3 linked regions of the Homo sapiens genome follow. The protein of the gene in region 3 purifies or fractionates together with the protein of the main gene of each other region. This does not show direct contact. Each region holds a gene or a part of one and is shown on either strand. Other genes may lie near its edges.

What was found. Proteins that work in one complex are often made in the same cells at the same time.
Region 1: the proteins of C1orf198 (region 3) and CLIC4 fractionate together in Homo sapiens (co-fractionation; one large-scale study listed by BioGRID). This does not show direct contact.
Region 2: the proteins of C1orf198 (region 3) and UBR3 purify together in Homo sapiens (affinity purification with mass spectrometry; one large-scale study listed by BioGRID and IntAct). This does not show direct contact.

The regions. Positions count from the first base shown.
Region 1 is NC_000001.11:24,810,911-24,815,904, reverse strand, and holds part of CLIC4 (chloride intracellular channel protein 4), read right to left. Parts: intron 1,812-4,994; coding exon 1,686-1,811; intron 1-1,685. UniProt on the Homo sapiens protein: In the soluble state, catalyzes glutaredoxin-like thiol disulfide exchange reactions with reduced glutathione as electron donor. Can insert into membranes and form voltage-dependent multi-ion conductive channels.
Region 2 is NC_000002.12:169,920,918-169,925,911, reverse strand, and holds part of UBR3 (E3 ubiquitin-protein ligase UBR3), read right to left. Parts: intron 1,984-4,994; coding exon 1,918-1,983; intron 1,829-1,917; coding exon 1,739-1,828; intron 294-1,738; coding exon 165-293; intron 1-164. UniProt on the Homo sapiens protein: E3 ubiquitin-protein ligase which is a component of the N-end rule pathway. Does not bind to proteins bearing specific N-terminal residues that are destabilizing according to the N-end rule, leading to their ubiquitination and subsequent degradation.
Region 3 is NC_000001.11:230,840,605-230,845,598, forward strand, and holds part of C1orf198 (uncharacterized protein C1orf198), read right to left. Parts: intron 3,293-4,994; coding exon 2,750-3,292; intron 1-2,749.

The sequences.
Region 1 (4,994 bases), about 210 Mb from region 3:
TACATCGACTTAGTTGTTAAAACAGCAGGAGGGTTTCAGAAGATGGATTCTAATTTTGAAAAAGGTTCTACTGTGGGTAAAAACACTATCAAACAGGGGTGCATGTTCTCAGGACCTCTTGAGATTAGCCTCAGGCAAAGAATATTTACTTTAAAATTTTTAAATGCTATCAAACACTATTGCATGTTACAGAGAAATCTTTCATGAAAGGAAGAGTCCATCAATGTAGAAAAATTCATTGTTATCTTACTTCAAGAAATTGCCACAGCCACCCCAACCAGCAATCACCATTCTGATCGGTCAGTAGCCAGCTACATCAAGGCAAGACCCTCCATCGGCAAAAAGATTGACTCGCTGAAGGCTCAGATAACCATTAGCATTTTTTAGCAATGATTTTTTTTTGAGACGGAGTTTTGCTTTTGTCACCCAGGCTGGAGTGCAGTGGCACGATCTTGGCTCACTACAACCTCTGCCTCCCTGGTTCAAGCAATTCTCCTGCCTCAGCCTCCCGAGTAGCTGGGATTACAGGTGCCTGCCACCACGCCCAGCTAATTTTTTTTGTATTTTTTAGTAGAGACGGGGTTTCTTCATGTTGGTCAGACTGGTCTCGAACTCCCAACCTCAGGTGATCCATCCGCCTCAGCCTCCCAAAGTGCTGGGATTACAGGCATGAGCCACCACACCCAGCCTAGCAATGAAGTATTTTTAAATTAAGGTACATGCAATATTTTCAGACATAATGCTATTATTGCACACTTAAAACACTACAGTATACTACTGTAAATATAACTTTTACATGCACTGGGAAACGAAAAATTTCACGTGACTCATTTTATTCCAATATTCATTTTATCACTGTGGTCTGGAACCTAACTCGCAATGGTCTGGAACCATACCCTTCAGGGTATGCCTATAATTATTTTAGAACCCTCCATCTCAATAATCCCATTCCTGGAAAATATATCTGGACATGGAGGGCAACAGTCAAGTTAACCAGTAAGAAAGGTTTTGGTCAGTAGAAACAAAACATGTCAATTTTCAGGATAATGAAACTGGAAAAGCCTAAAAGAAACAAATAATGCTTTGAATCTATGCCAATATTACAGTATGATGCAAAGCTGCATATCTGCAATTTAGGTAACTATCATTACAGTACATCCAGGACCTAGAGATCTGGAACACCTCAAAGAAGTAAGTAAATAAAAACTCTGAATCCTAGGGACACAGTCGGAAAAGTCAATGTCCTTGGATTATAGCTTTAGAAAGTTACCTTTAAAATGAACTGAAATCAAATCTCATTGCAGTCCTGTGCCACACTCCTGCTAAGACATTCTTACTGGGTTCAGTTGGAATGTGTCTTTCCCCACCCCTTCTCCTCTTTAAACTTCTCTCTCAGTTTGAGACCTACAGTCCACAAATAACCAGTCTTTCCTGACCTATCAGACACATCCCAAATCTGTTTCTACCACATATTCTACAGCTTAGACAAATCCCCACCTTTCTTAGTATGGCTGATTGGCCTAGCTGGAAGCCAATTCTTATATCTGTGTAGCATTAATTATAAGAAACATAGAAGAGAGTCCTAGTCATTCCAAATTAATGCTGCGAGAAAGATCTCTACTGACAAATAACACAAGCTTCAAAGAAGTGACAATATTTTCATACGTATTTTCCTTGATACTCACTTGGGAGGGCATAAGACTTCTTCAAGAAATTCCTCAATCTTATTTACATCCGTTTTGACTTCACTGTTGAAAGTTATAAATGGTGGGTGGGTCCCGGGAGCCAAGTTCTGCAGGTCTGCTGGCTTCCTGTTGGGCAAAATATTGGTCAAAATCAGATCATTTTTTACTCTTAAACAACAATAATACTTTAAATTCTCAAAGTTGGCCAGGCACGGTGGCTTGCGTCTGTAGTCGTAGCACTACAGGAGGCTGAGGTGGGACACTGCTTAGCCCAGGAGTTTGAGACCCAGCCTGGGCAACATGGTAAGATCCTGTCTCCACAAAACATAAAAAATTAGCCAGGCATGGTGGTGCGTGTCTATAGTACCAGCTACCAGGGAGGCTGAGGTGGAAGGATCACTTGAGCCTGGGAAGTTGAGGCTGGAGTGAGCCATGATCGCACCACTGCACTCCAGCCTGGGCGACAGAGAGACCCTGTCTCAAAAAGAAAATAAATAAATTGTCCGGGCATGGTGGCTCATGTCTGTAATCCCAGCCCTTTGGGAGGCCGAGGCGGGTGGATCACCTGAGGTCAGGAGTTTGAGACCAGCTTGGCCAGCATGGTGAAACCCCATCTCTGCTAAAAATATAAAAATTAGCTGGGCATGGTGGTGCGCACCTGTAGTTCCAGCTACTTGGGAGGCTGAGGAAGGAGGATCACTTGAACCCGGGAGGCGGAGGTTGCAGTGAGCTGAGAATGTACCACTGCACTCCAGCCTAGGTGACAGAGTAAAACCCTGTCAGAAAAGAAAAAGAAAAAGAGAAAAAGAAAAAGAAAAGAGATCAAAGTGGTTCTAAAATTTAAAGTATATAAAACTGAATAAGAAATGGTATTTTTCAGCCGGGCACGGTGGCTCACGGCTGTAATCCCAGCACTTTGGGAGGCCAAGGCAGGAGGATCACGAGGTCAGAAGTTTGAGACCAGCCTGACCAACATGGTGAAACCCCATCTCTACTAAAAATACAAAAGTTAATTGGGCGTGGTGGCATGTGCCTGTAATCCCAGCTACTCAGGAGGCTGAGGCAGGAGAATCGCTTGAATCCCGGAAGCAGAGGCTGCAGTCAGCAGAGATCTCACCACAGCACTCCAGCCTGGGCGACAGAGCAAGACTCCATCTTAAAAAAAAAAAAAAAGAAAGAAAGAAAGAAAGAAAGGTATTTTTCAACCAGGTGTGGTGGCTCACGCCTCTAATCCCAGCATTTTGGGAGGCCAAGGTGGGCAGATCATGAGGTCAAGAGATTGAGACCCTCCTGGCCAACATGGTGAAACTCCGTCTCTGCTAAAAATATAAAAATTAGCTGGGCATGGTGGCATGCACCTGTAGTTCCAGCTACTTGGGAGGCTGAGGAAGGAGAACCACTTGAACCCGGGAGGCGGAGGTTACAGTGAGCCAAGATCGCACCACTGCACTCCAGCCTGGTGACAGAGCAATACTCTGTCTCAAAAAAAAGAAAGAAATAGTACTTTTCCACTAGATATAATAGCTGTAATAGTATTCTAATAAGAAGCAAGCCTCCACAAAATACATAATTTATGGTAAGAAAATGCTTTGATTTTTTTTTTAACCAAAATACAAAATCCATCATTCTCATTCCAAATTAACTAAGTCACTCATTAGAGATAGTGATAGAATGAGGAGGGAAAAAAGATTTTGGAGAGTTAGTGTCTGGTTTCAACTCTGGCCCCAACTAATTGTGTAAAGATGGGTAAGTCATGACTTCCCTAGGCCTTTTTTTTTCTTTTTGGCAAAATAAAAGAGAAAAGCAGCTGAATCCTGCAGTCATCTTCAACTTCAAAAGATTCCAAATTCTGGTGCTATTTCTTTCCCATTATTCTAGAAGTCCAGGCTTGACAAGGAAAAGGATCACCAGATTAGACTATCTAATATCAAAATTACTTCAATACATAAAAGATGGCATAATGAAGGGTAAAAAGCAACAAAGAATGGACAAAGTACTGAGTGAGAAAAGCTTAAAATCTACATTACCTAAGGATTTTGTCCAAATTCATTCCAAAGGTCATCAAAAAAATCAAATAGGTATGGGTCAAAAGAAATTGATGAGAGACAGATAAAACAAGTGAACACACAGAAAAATGTAAAATAGCACAACTATAAAGGGAATTTAAAAGTAAACAATAAGATGTCTTCCTCCTGTTGATTAGGAAAAATTGAAAACACCACAAAACACTGATAAAGATGGTGAAACTGTTATGCTGACAACTACTAACAGCAAGAAGTGTTTGTACTATCTTGTTAAAAAAGCAAAATGGCTCACCCAAACCCACCAATGAATTTTAGGATCAAAAAATGAGATGACCAGATATGGTGTGTTTCCTATGGCACCATGAAGTATTCTTACCAAAGAAGTTGACCCTGAATCTAATCAAGCCTCTGGGGCAGGCTGGGTGCAGTGGCTCATACCTGTAACATTAGCACTTTGAGAGGCCAAGGCAGGAGGATTGCTTGAGTCCAGGAGTTCAAGCGAGACCAGCCTGGGCAACATAGTGAGATCCCATCTCTATAAAAAAATTTTTTTTAATTAGCTGGGTGTGGTGGCATGTGCCTGTAGTCCCAGCTACTTGGGAGGCTGAGATGGGAGGATTGGTTGAGCCCAGGCGGTCGAGGCTGCAGTGAACAGTGATCATATCACTGCACTTCAGCCTGGGCAACAGAGTGAGACCCTGTCTCAAAACAACAACAACAACAAACCAAAACAAAGCAGCCTCTGGGGCAGCTGTTTCTCAAATTGTAAGCCAGGAGACCCTTTCACCAGGTGATCCATTAGGTCAGAACTATTCTTATAATACTAAGGCATCATTTGCCTTTTTCACTCTCATTCTCCTCTCGTGCACATATAGTAAAATTTTCCAAATTTACTTGGCTACTTGGTACAAGATATCACAAGGTAATGAATGCAGAAGCAGACACGAGAAACCTCTTCTAAGATGTGCAAAAATGTAAAAGAATGCCACTCTTCTCACTATTTTTTGTTTTGGGAAATATAGTTGTTTTACATTAAAAATGTTTTATGGTAATAAGTAGTGGGTTCATTATTGTTCTATATTTAATGAATTAGTAAATGATTTTTTTTTTTTTTCCTGAGACAGAGTCTCACTCTGTCGCCCAGGCTGAAGTGCAGTGGTGCGATCTCGGCTCACTACAAGCTCCATCTCCCAAGTTCACGCCATTCTCCTGCCTCAGCCTCCCAAGTAGCTGGGACTACAGGCGCACACCAAGCCCAGCTAATTTTTGATGTATTTTTTAGTAG
Region 2 (4,994 bases), on a different chromosome or scaffold from region 3:
GTGTTGGGTGGTATGCCTCTTCTCCTGGGAAATGTAAGTAAAAAATTATTCTTTCAATGGCATTGGCCTCTCCATGTCATCACGCAGTCACCTCTATAAATTAAAATCCCTTGGGTACAAATGAGACACTTCTAAAGTATATCTGCATTATCTAGCTGGCTTACCTGTAACAGGTAAATGTCAGGATCAATCATGGAATTACAGAAATGAGACTGGACATACGTCATGGCTTGTCCTTTGATTTGCAGACCATTTCTTACCCACATATTGCTGTGGATTTCTGCAAGACTTGCCTAATAAAAGTAAATTGGACAAAGAATAAATTATCTAAATGCAATCTTTACAAAATATTATAAATAACCATTTCAAAATATTTAATGATGTGATCATAGTATAAGCCCGATATTCTGTCCAATGTTAAAGATAATCAGTTGAAATATACATTTTTACATTTTTTTTAACAATAATTATGTTTTTACATAGCCACTTTTTTAGAGTTTAAACAAATGAGTTGGTTTTCCATGTTGGCCTCTGGATACATTTATGATGATTTTCACTGACATCTTTCATAAGAAATCAATGCTTATGTTTCACTCTATTTCTCCCTCAAGAAAACCCTAAGTAACAACAACAACAATCCTAATATACATGTTTAAAGAAAGACACTAGAATAAGCATAAAATAAAACCAACTGTTCAAAGTCAATGAATACATTCTACATCTTTAATTCACCCTAACTCAATCTTAAATCTATACTGCTAATTTTCCAAATATTGGAGGTTAGAATAAATGTTCTCACTACATCAGTATTTAATTCTTCATGTATTTATGTCCAGTGTCAACTAAAACTAGGCAGTCATCATTTTTTTTGTTTTTTTTGAAACAGAATCTCACTCTGTCGCCAGACTGGAGTGCAGTGGCGCGATCTTGGCCCACTGCAACCTCTGTCTCCCAGGTTCAAGCAATTCTTCTTGCCTCAGCCTCCCGAGTAGCTGGGACTACAGGTGCACGCCACCATGCCCAGCTAATTTTTGTATATTCAGTAGAGACAAGGTTTCACCATGTTGGCCAGGATGGTCTCGATTTCTTGACCTCGTGATCTGCCCGCCTTGGCCTCCCAAAGTGCTGGAATTACAGGCGTGAGCCACCACACCTGGCTTCAAGCAGTCATAATTTTATGTTTCCTAACACCCAGAGTTCAAGTTCAATATTATAATAATTAACAAATCTAAAATTGCCAGGAAAAACAAATGGAAGTGCAAGTCCCTCTAATGTATATAAAAAGCTGGCCTGTCAAATTACATTGCTGGTATTAAAAGAAATCACAGTGCTTATATAAGCTAATTCTTCTCTCCTCTTTCTCCTCTCACTATACAGATAGGGAAACTGAGAATCAAGGAGGTGAATTACCTTAAACCTTGCGGAAAATAAAACAGTGGTAGCACCAAGGCTAGAATCTTTTGGATCTCCTGACTCCCAAAACAGTGCTATATAGTATGTTAAATACCACCCCATAAGCAAATATCATGAAAAGAATTCCTGGAAAAAGTAAAACTAAAAAGTAAATCTCATAAAATGAAAAATACCTAAACATAATCTAGCAAAAATACAATAACAACTTTTTAAAAAAAGTTTTCAAACATCTCAGCTATAATAACAATGAAAGGCATATAAATAAAGGAAGAATCACTTAAACAAGGAATCCACTTCAAAACTTTTTAAATGCCTGAATACATACTTGAATTTGGAGTGGGTGAATCATTAGTTTCATTAACATTTCCTGATCTGGTAAAACAGAATCCAAATCTAGTTCTTGACATTTCACAGCCTAAAAATTACAATAAAAAAGTTACTAATTCAATTCTTATTTCTGAAAATTAAAAAAAAAAGAACAGAATTGTTTAATGACAGTCTTACCTTACTCAAAAACATAGCATAGTAACGATGTAGTGGCAGATGAAAAGTGACTTGGTTAGGTGCTGGCTGGAATAAACAAACAAAATGCACAAGTCAAAGACTATTTTATAGAAATTTTAAGATGGTTGTAAAATGTTTAAACCATACTCTCACCTGGATTTATTCCTATACTTTTAGTTCAAAACTTAACATTTTAGAAGATGCAGATTCCAAAATCACTATAGATAAAATTTTTCCATTTTAAACACTTAAGTATAAGTTTCTTGAAGGCAGAAATTGTATTCTACTCAACTTTGAATCCTCTGAAGCATCCAGTACAGATTAATATTTCCTAAATTCAATTCAGCTAAAGCAAATAATTATTATTAAAACAAGGGATGGAATGGATTTCCAGCTACAGTAGACCATTTGGGACTCTTCAAACGCATGTATACCAAACATCATGACAGTAATAACAGTCACATATAACATTCATTGAACACTTCCTATGTGCCAGTCACCATGCTAAGCACTTTATTCACATTACCACATTTAATCCTCAGAAGAATGCTATGGGGTAGGAGCTACTAATATTCTCATTCTACAAGTAGCAAAATTCAAACTTAGAAAACTTAACTAACTTCCTAAAGTTCAAAAGTAGTGAACTGGGGAGCTAATCTGGACTCCACTGTCATATTCAAAACTGTAAGAAGACTCTGACCACATCCCTAAACAGAGGTATAAATGCAGGGCATCGTTAGATTCCTTCACCAGTTAGATAAGATGCTTCCAAACAGTACCAAACGCACCAGCCTCCATAACAAAACTTCATAAAAAATATGTGAATGACCTTAGGCATTCCTGTAAATATTACAAAAACTGTATTTTAAATCTGTGAATCCCATGGATCACAAAATCACTACAGGGCAAAAATACACCACAGCTGTCCTTCTTAAACAAATGAGTTAAGAACTGAAAAGGTATTGTTTGTTTTTAATGCTTTTTAAGTTCTTATTAAATATTCTCTTGTTAAAAATGTTTATCCCGGACATTCAGATAATTATGCTAATGTATATAATTTACATTATAGAGGTTATAAGGAGTCTAAATATGTCACCATCCCTGAAATAATTATTTTTTTCAAAACCAGTAAGATAATAATATCCTCTTCAATATGTAAAGGCTATAAAAATTTGTTCTAATAAATAAAAGTTTGCCCTCCATAAAAAGAAAGGAAAGTCTAACAATGTTCTGTAACATGAATAAACCTTCGGGATATTATGCTAAGTAAAATAAGCCAGTCACAAAAAGACAGTAACTATATGATTCCACCTATATGAGGTTCTTAGAGCAGCCAAATTCGTAGAGATACAAAGTAGAATGGTGGTTGCCAGAAGCTGGGGGAAGAGGAAATGGGGAGTAGCTATTTAATGAGTATAGTTTCAATTTTATGAGATAAAAAAGTTATGGAGATTGGCTGCACGACAATACAAATACACATAACACTACTGAACTATACACTTAAAAATGATTAAGATAGTGAATTTTATGTTTTCTGTGTATTTTACCACAATTAAAAATAAAATTTTAAAAAGTTTGCCCTCCATTACCATAATCGCCTTAGTAACATATTCTACACTAACTAGCTAAGTCAGAATCTCCCTCAATTTCCTTTGAGGCACTAAGCACAGTGGATAAGTGCAGACTCTTTTTTTTTTTTTTTTTTTAAATAGACAGGGTCTCACTCTGTGGCCCAGGGTGGAGTATGGTGGCACGATCACAGTTCGCTGCAACCTCCACCTCCCGGGCTCAAGTCATCCTCCCTCCTCGGCCCCCTGAGCAGCTGGGACTACAGACACACACCACCATGCCTGGCTAATTTCTGTTTTTGGTAGAGACAGGGTTTTTGCCATGTTGCCCAGACTGCTCTCGAACTCCTGGGCTCATGCAATCTGCCCGCCTCAGCCTCCCAAAGGATTGGAATTATAGACGTGAACCACCAGGCCCAGCCTAGGTGCAGACCCTTTTTTTGAGTCTCGCACTGTCCCCCAGACTGGAGTACGGTGGCGCGATCTCAGCTCACTGCAACCTCTGCCTCCCGGGTTCAAGCAATTCTCCTGCCTCAGCCTCCTGAGTAGCTGGGACTACAGGCATGTATTACCACACCGGCTAATTTTTGTATTTTTAGTAGAGACAGGGTTTCACCATGTTGCCCAGGCTGGTCTCAAACACCTGACCTCAAGTGATCCACCTGCCTCGGCCTCCCAAAGTGCTGGGACCAAAGGCGTGAACCACTGTGCCTGCTTCCTAAGTGCAGAATCCTGGTTCTACCACCCAGCTGTAAAACTATGGGCAAGTTACCTCTCTGTGCCTAAGTTGTCTGATCCTTAAAGTAGGAATAATAAAGAGTTTAGTAGCTGCGAGAAATAAGTAAAACAGCACAGTACCCAGTACATATTGCTATTAACTAGTAAGCCATGGACCCTATTTTATCTTTCAGGGCTTTAGCATATCCTATGTTCACATTCTCCATAACGTTAAAGTCCATATTCCTTCCTTGTCTAATGTCACAGACTGGCTACTTGATAAGCACTTCTTCTATTCCTATATATACTGAGAGTCCTTGGATTCCATTCTTCACTCTATAGTCTTCTATGTGAATTTATCCAGATTCACAGCTTCAGCTGCTAACTCTACCCAGATGAGTTCCAAATCTCAGTGGAAATCTCACTCCTGAACTCCAAATCTTACATTCAGGTGTCTACTGAACAGCAATACTTAATATTCCATAGGACCACAAATACAGCGTGTCCAAACCAAACTCAGTATCTTTGCCATAAAACTCAATCCTCCTCAATATTTCTTCTCCAGATTCCCAGTAATTTAAATATGAAATGTAGACTTCCTCCTTCTCACAAGCCTCCTATATTTGATGAGGTATCAAATTATGTTTACTTATTTTTTAAGTATCTCTTAAATCCACTTTCTTCTTTCTGTCTACACTGCACCTAACTAACCTTAGCTCAGGCCCTCAACACCTAGTGCCTAGATTTTAGTGATAACCCCTACTTCTACCATTATCCTGCATAAAACACCTT
Region 3 (4,994 bases):
AAACTTCTGACTGGCTTCCACTCAGCAGCCTGTTTCTGATGTCCCTTTCCTCCAGCCTAACACCGGCAGGCATTTACCTGGTGCGCCAAGGTCTTCTTGAGCAAAGAAACCTTGACTCTCCACCCTCCAAGCAGCCGGCCAGCAGAAAATGCATACATGGCGGCAAGAGCAGGCAATGGGCTAATGGGCTTGCCCTTGACACCTGTCTCAGGCCCAGTTTGGCTACATGTGAGACTGGTGCAGAGTGAGGCAAAACATGCAGAATGGAAGGAGTGCAATCCAGTTTTCCTTGTTCTGGTTTCCTTCCAGTTTCTTAAATGCAGTGGCATTTCACTGTGCTTTACTCAGAAATCTGTTCTCTCAAAGGAATTTCATGTGCTGTCTCCTACTCTCCACTGCCCACACAGAAACACGTTCCTGCTTCTCTTTAGAGTGGGGACTATCACCTATTTTATGGAAATACTTCTTTCAGAGGAAGCCCTCAGTGCCGAGTCTCAGAGAAAGAGTGCTGGTTAGGGAGGCAGGGAACTGAGCCTGTCTGTAAGGAGGAGCTGATGGGCAGGAGGATGTGAGACAGAAAACAGAACGGAGAGATGGGCAGGTACCGGAGAAGGCAGGAAACAAGAGGGCTGAAAGCACTAGCTTAAGAAGGTGCAGAAACACGAAGAGGACAGGCTAGAGCACTGATGTGGAGCCGAGGTGGGCAGAAGGTACTAGCACCGCTGGATCCTCCCTCCTCGGGAGGACAGCACGTGCAGCCATCTGCCGAGGGAGGTGTGGAAGTACTGGAAACCTGCTCTGGGGGACATTCAATGTTATCAGTGATGATCTCAACTCAACAACAAAATAACCAAAAATTTAAAAATGGGCAAGGGACCATTGGACATTTCTCCAAAGAAGATACACAGATGGCCAATAAGCACATGAAATGAGGCTCAACATCATTCACGATCATGGACAGGCAAGTCTAAACCACGGTGAGACACCACCTCATACCCCTTCGCATGGCACCAGCAAAGACACAGAAAATAACAAGTGTTGCAAGGGAGTGGAGAAACGCGAACCCACATTGATGGGAATGTAAAATGACGCAGCTGCTGTGGCGAACAGTATGCAGGTTCTTCAAAAAAGTAGAAATAGAACCACCATGTGATCCAGCAATTCTACATCTGGGTATGCACCCAGGAGAAGGGAAAGCAGGGGCTGGAAGACTTATTTGTACATACACGTTCACAGCAGCACTATTCCTAACAGACAACAATAGCCAGAAGGTGGAAGCAACCCAAGTGTCTGTCGATGGATGAGTGGATACACAAAATGTGGTCTAACCACACGATGGAATATTAGCCTTAGAAGGCAATTCTACACTTGCTACAACATGAATGAGCCTTGAAGACGTCACATTAAGTAAAGTAAGTCAGTCACAAAAGGGTAAATACTATATGGTGCTACTTATATGAGGTACCTAGAGGAGTCAAATTCACAGACACAGAAAGTGGAATGGTGGTTGCCAGGAGCTTGCGGGGAGGGATGAATGAGAAGTTAGTGTTGAACGGGTCCAGAGCTTTAGTTCTGCAGGATGAAAGGAGTTCTGGAGATGGATGGTAGTGATGGTTACACAGCATTGAGAATGTACTGAAATGCCACCAAATTTATACTGTAAAATGGTTAAAATGGTAAATGTTTGTATATTTTACCATAATAAAAACTTTTAAAATTCAGTATATGGAACCAGCCCAAATGCCCACCAATCAATGAGTGGATAAAGAAACTGTGGTATATATATACGATGGAATACTACTCAGCCAAAAAAGGAATGAATTAATGGCATCTGCAGCGACCTGGATGTAATTGGAGACTATTATTCTAAGTGAAGTAACTCAGGAATGGAAAATCAAACATCATATGTTCTCACTCATAAGTGGGAGCTAAGCTATGAGGATGCAAAGGCATAAGAATGACACAATGGACTTTGGGGACTCGGGGAAAGAGTGGGAGGTGGGTGAGGGATAAAAAACTACAAATTGGGTTCAGTGTCCACTGCTCGGGTGATGGGTGCACCAAAATCTCACACATCACCACTAAAGAACTTATGTCACCAAATACCACCCAAAACCTATGGAAATAAAAAATTTAAAAAATAAAAATTAAAAAAAAAAAGAGTGACCCACAAGAACCAAGGAGTCTCAAGGGCCAGAGGAGGATGGGTGAGGCTACCATGGAGGCAACTGCATCCTGGGCTCACTCCTCAGCAAGGCAGCCAGGAGCCCAGCGAGGCCCACAGAGGGGCAAGACCCAGTGAGGCCTCTCAAGTGTGCCTGCCTGCTTTGCCAACAGGCAGCTCCCCTGGCCCAAATCCAGACCAGTCCTAAAGAACAGACCATTGCCTCTATGGACAGCTCCCAAAAAGAAGGCCCAACACAGCTTTGAGCTGTGACAGCCCTGGGCGCAGCGCCTTCCAGGGGCCTCTTCTGATAGCAGCCCGCGCACTGGGGAAAGCGCAGTGGGCCACGGAACCCTGACTGGTAAACAAATTAGGGCACCCAGATGGACTCGCAAAACTTGTCTTGTTGCATATTTGTTGGTGGCTCAGCACCCTGAGCCTAGGCATCCTCTGAGGAAGAGGCAGGGGAAGGAGAAGAAAAAGAGCATGGGCACCTGTGGCCTGCCTGCTTTGTGGGGGACCCTCTCGGTTCCCGTGGAATAAGGCACCATCCCATCTGAGGACGCGCTGGTAAAGGCCACTCACCTGTGCAAACTTGGGTTCCGAGAACAGGGTGTCTTCCCCATCGTCCTGCCTGACATCAGGAGATGGCAGCTTCCCCTCGAGCTGGGAGGGGGCAGCCTCGTGCAGTGCACTGCTGAAGGCCTGGACAGGCTGGGGTCTCTCACGTTCGGTGCTCACGTTGGGAAGAGGACGCTGCTCCTGACGGAGGGTGCTGGGCCTTTCCACCTTGGCCTCCCTGTCCTTCGGGGCAGGTTCCTGCCGGTAGCAGGGAGGCAAGACCTTTTCCCCCTTCTCCATGGACTTGATCTGGCTAGGGGTCAGCGACTGGAACTCGGCCTCAGGCCCCTCCCCTCGGGACCGCTCAGCATTGATCTTCCAGAATGACGCTTCCTCCTCCTTCCTGGTGGGGCCCAGGGCGTCCAGGCTGGAGGACCTGCTGCCTTGGGAGGACTTGAGGGCCTGGGAGCCCTGGGAAGCTTTGGACAGTGGTCTGGGCTCGCTGGCGGCGGTGCCGTTGCTCGGCTCCTGGATGGATAGGGCGGAGATACTGAACTCCATCTGACTCTAGGGTGGGACATGAGAAAGGACAGAAAAAAGAAAGAGATCCTGAGAATCGACCGTCACAAGTGTGCCAGCTCACGCACCCCTCCTCAGCATAAGGACGCACACCAGCCACACACGAGTTGTTGCCCATGTGCTGGAACTGTCTGTCCTGAGTGGTGGGTATGGTCAGGACTCCCATCGCACACCTGAAATGCATCAGAAGCTTAAATGCCAAGGCCGGGTGACAGAGTGTGGGTGGTGGTCCCCTCCCAAATCTCATGTCGAACTGTAATCCCCAGTGCTGGAGGTGAGGCCTCGTGGGAGGTGTCTGGATCACAGGGGCGGATGTTGTCTTCATGATGGTGACTTCATGGCTTGGTGCTGTCTTCATGATAGTGAGTCCTCATGAGATCTGGTCGTTTAAAAGGGTGTGGCACCTCCCCCTGACTCTCTCCCTCTTGCTCCTGCTCTGCCATGTGAGATACCTGCTCTCCTCCGCCTTCCACCATGAGCCACAGCCCCCTGAGGCCTCCCCAGAAGCCAAGCAGATGCCGATGCCATGTTTCCTGTGCAGCCCGCAGAACCGTGAGCCAATTAAACCTCCTCTCTTTATAAATTACCCAGTCTCAGGTATTTCTTTAAAACAACACAAGAACACACTGATACACTCCCTCATGCACTATGCTACATGCAGCTCAAGATATCTGAGTATTACCGATGAGTAAGGGCTCTCTGCCTGGTAAACAGGGCACCCTCCTGTCTCCTCCAGTGTGGTTCTAGCACCTTCCTGGCAGGTGACGACCCTCATTGGGAGGATAACGAGGAAAGGTGCACACTGCAACAAAAGGCCACATCGCAGCCAGGGTCAGAACCCAGCCTCAGATCACAAACACCCAGAGGGCAGGGCAGGGCCTGGCACCCATCACAGCCTATGCCCCACATCTGAGCACCCACAAAATGCTTTCCTTGATCTGGATGCTGCTAACCACAGTGATCTCTAAAAATGACACTGCTGAGCTGTTTTGACCAACAAAATCATTACATGGCAACCTAAACCTCCTCTTTGGAGTAGAATGTTGTCTTCCAAGCTCTGCAGAACAAGCAATTTGTAATCTCAATCATTTCTAAAATCAATTCTGAAGACTTCTCTCTTCCCTCACCATTTCTACTCCCTCATATTTCCCTGCCTCTTTCTAAAATAAATTAATACGCCAGATGTGGTGGCTCACGCCTATAATCCTAGCACTTTGGGAGGCTAAGGATAGAAAATCGCTTGAGCCCAGTTTGAGACCAGCCTGGGCAACAAGTGAGACCCCTTCTCTACTAAAAATTAAAAAAATTAAAAAAAAAAAAAAAAAAGGCCAGGCATGATGACACACGCCTGTGGTCCCCAGCTACTCAATATGCTGAGGTGGGAGGATTGCTTGAGCCTGGGAGGTCAAGGCTGCAGTGAGCCACGATTGCATCACTGCATTCCAGCCTGGGCAACAGAGCAAGACCCTGTCTCAAAAAATATACTAAAAATAGGCCAGGCACGATGGCTCACGCCTGTAATCCCAGCATTTTGGGAGGCGAGGCAGGCGGATCATCTGAGGTCAGGAGTTTCAGAGCAGCCTGACCAACATGGAGAAACCCCCTCTCTAATAAAAATACAAAATTAGCCAGGCGTGGTGGCAGGAGCCTGTAATCCCATCTACTCAGGAAGGCTGAGGCAGGAGAATCG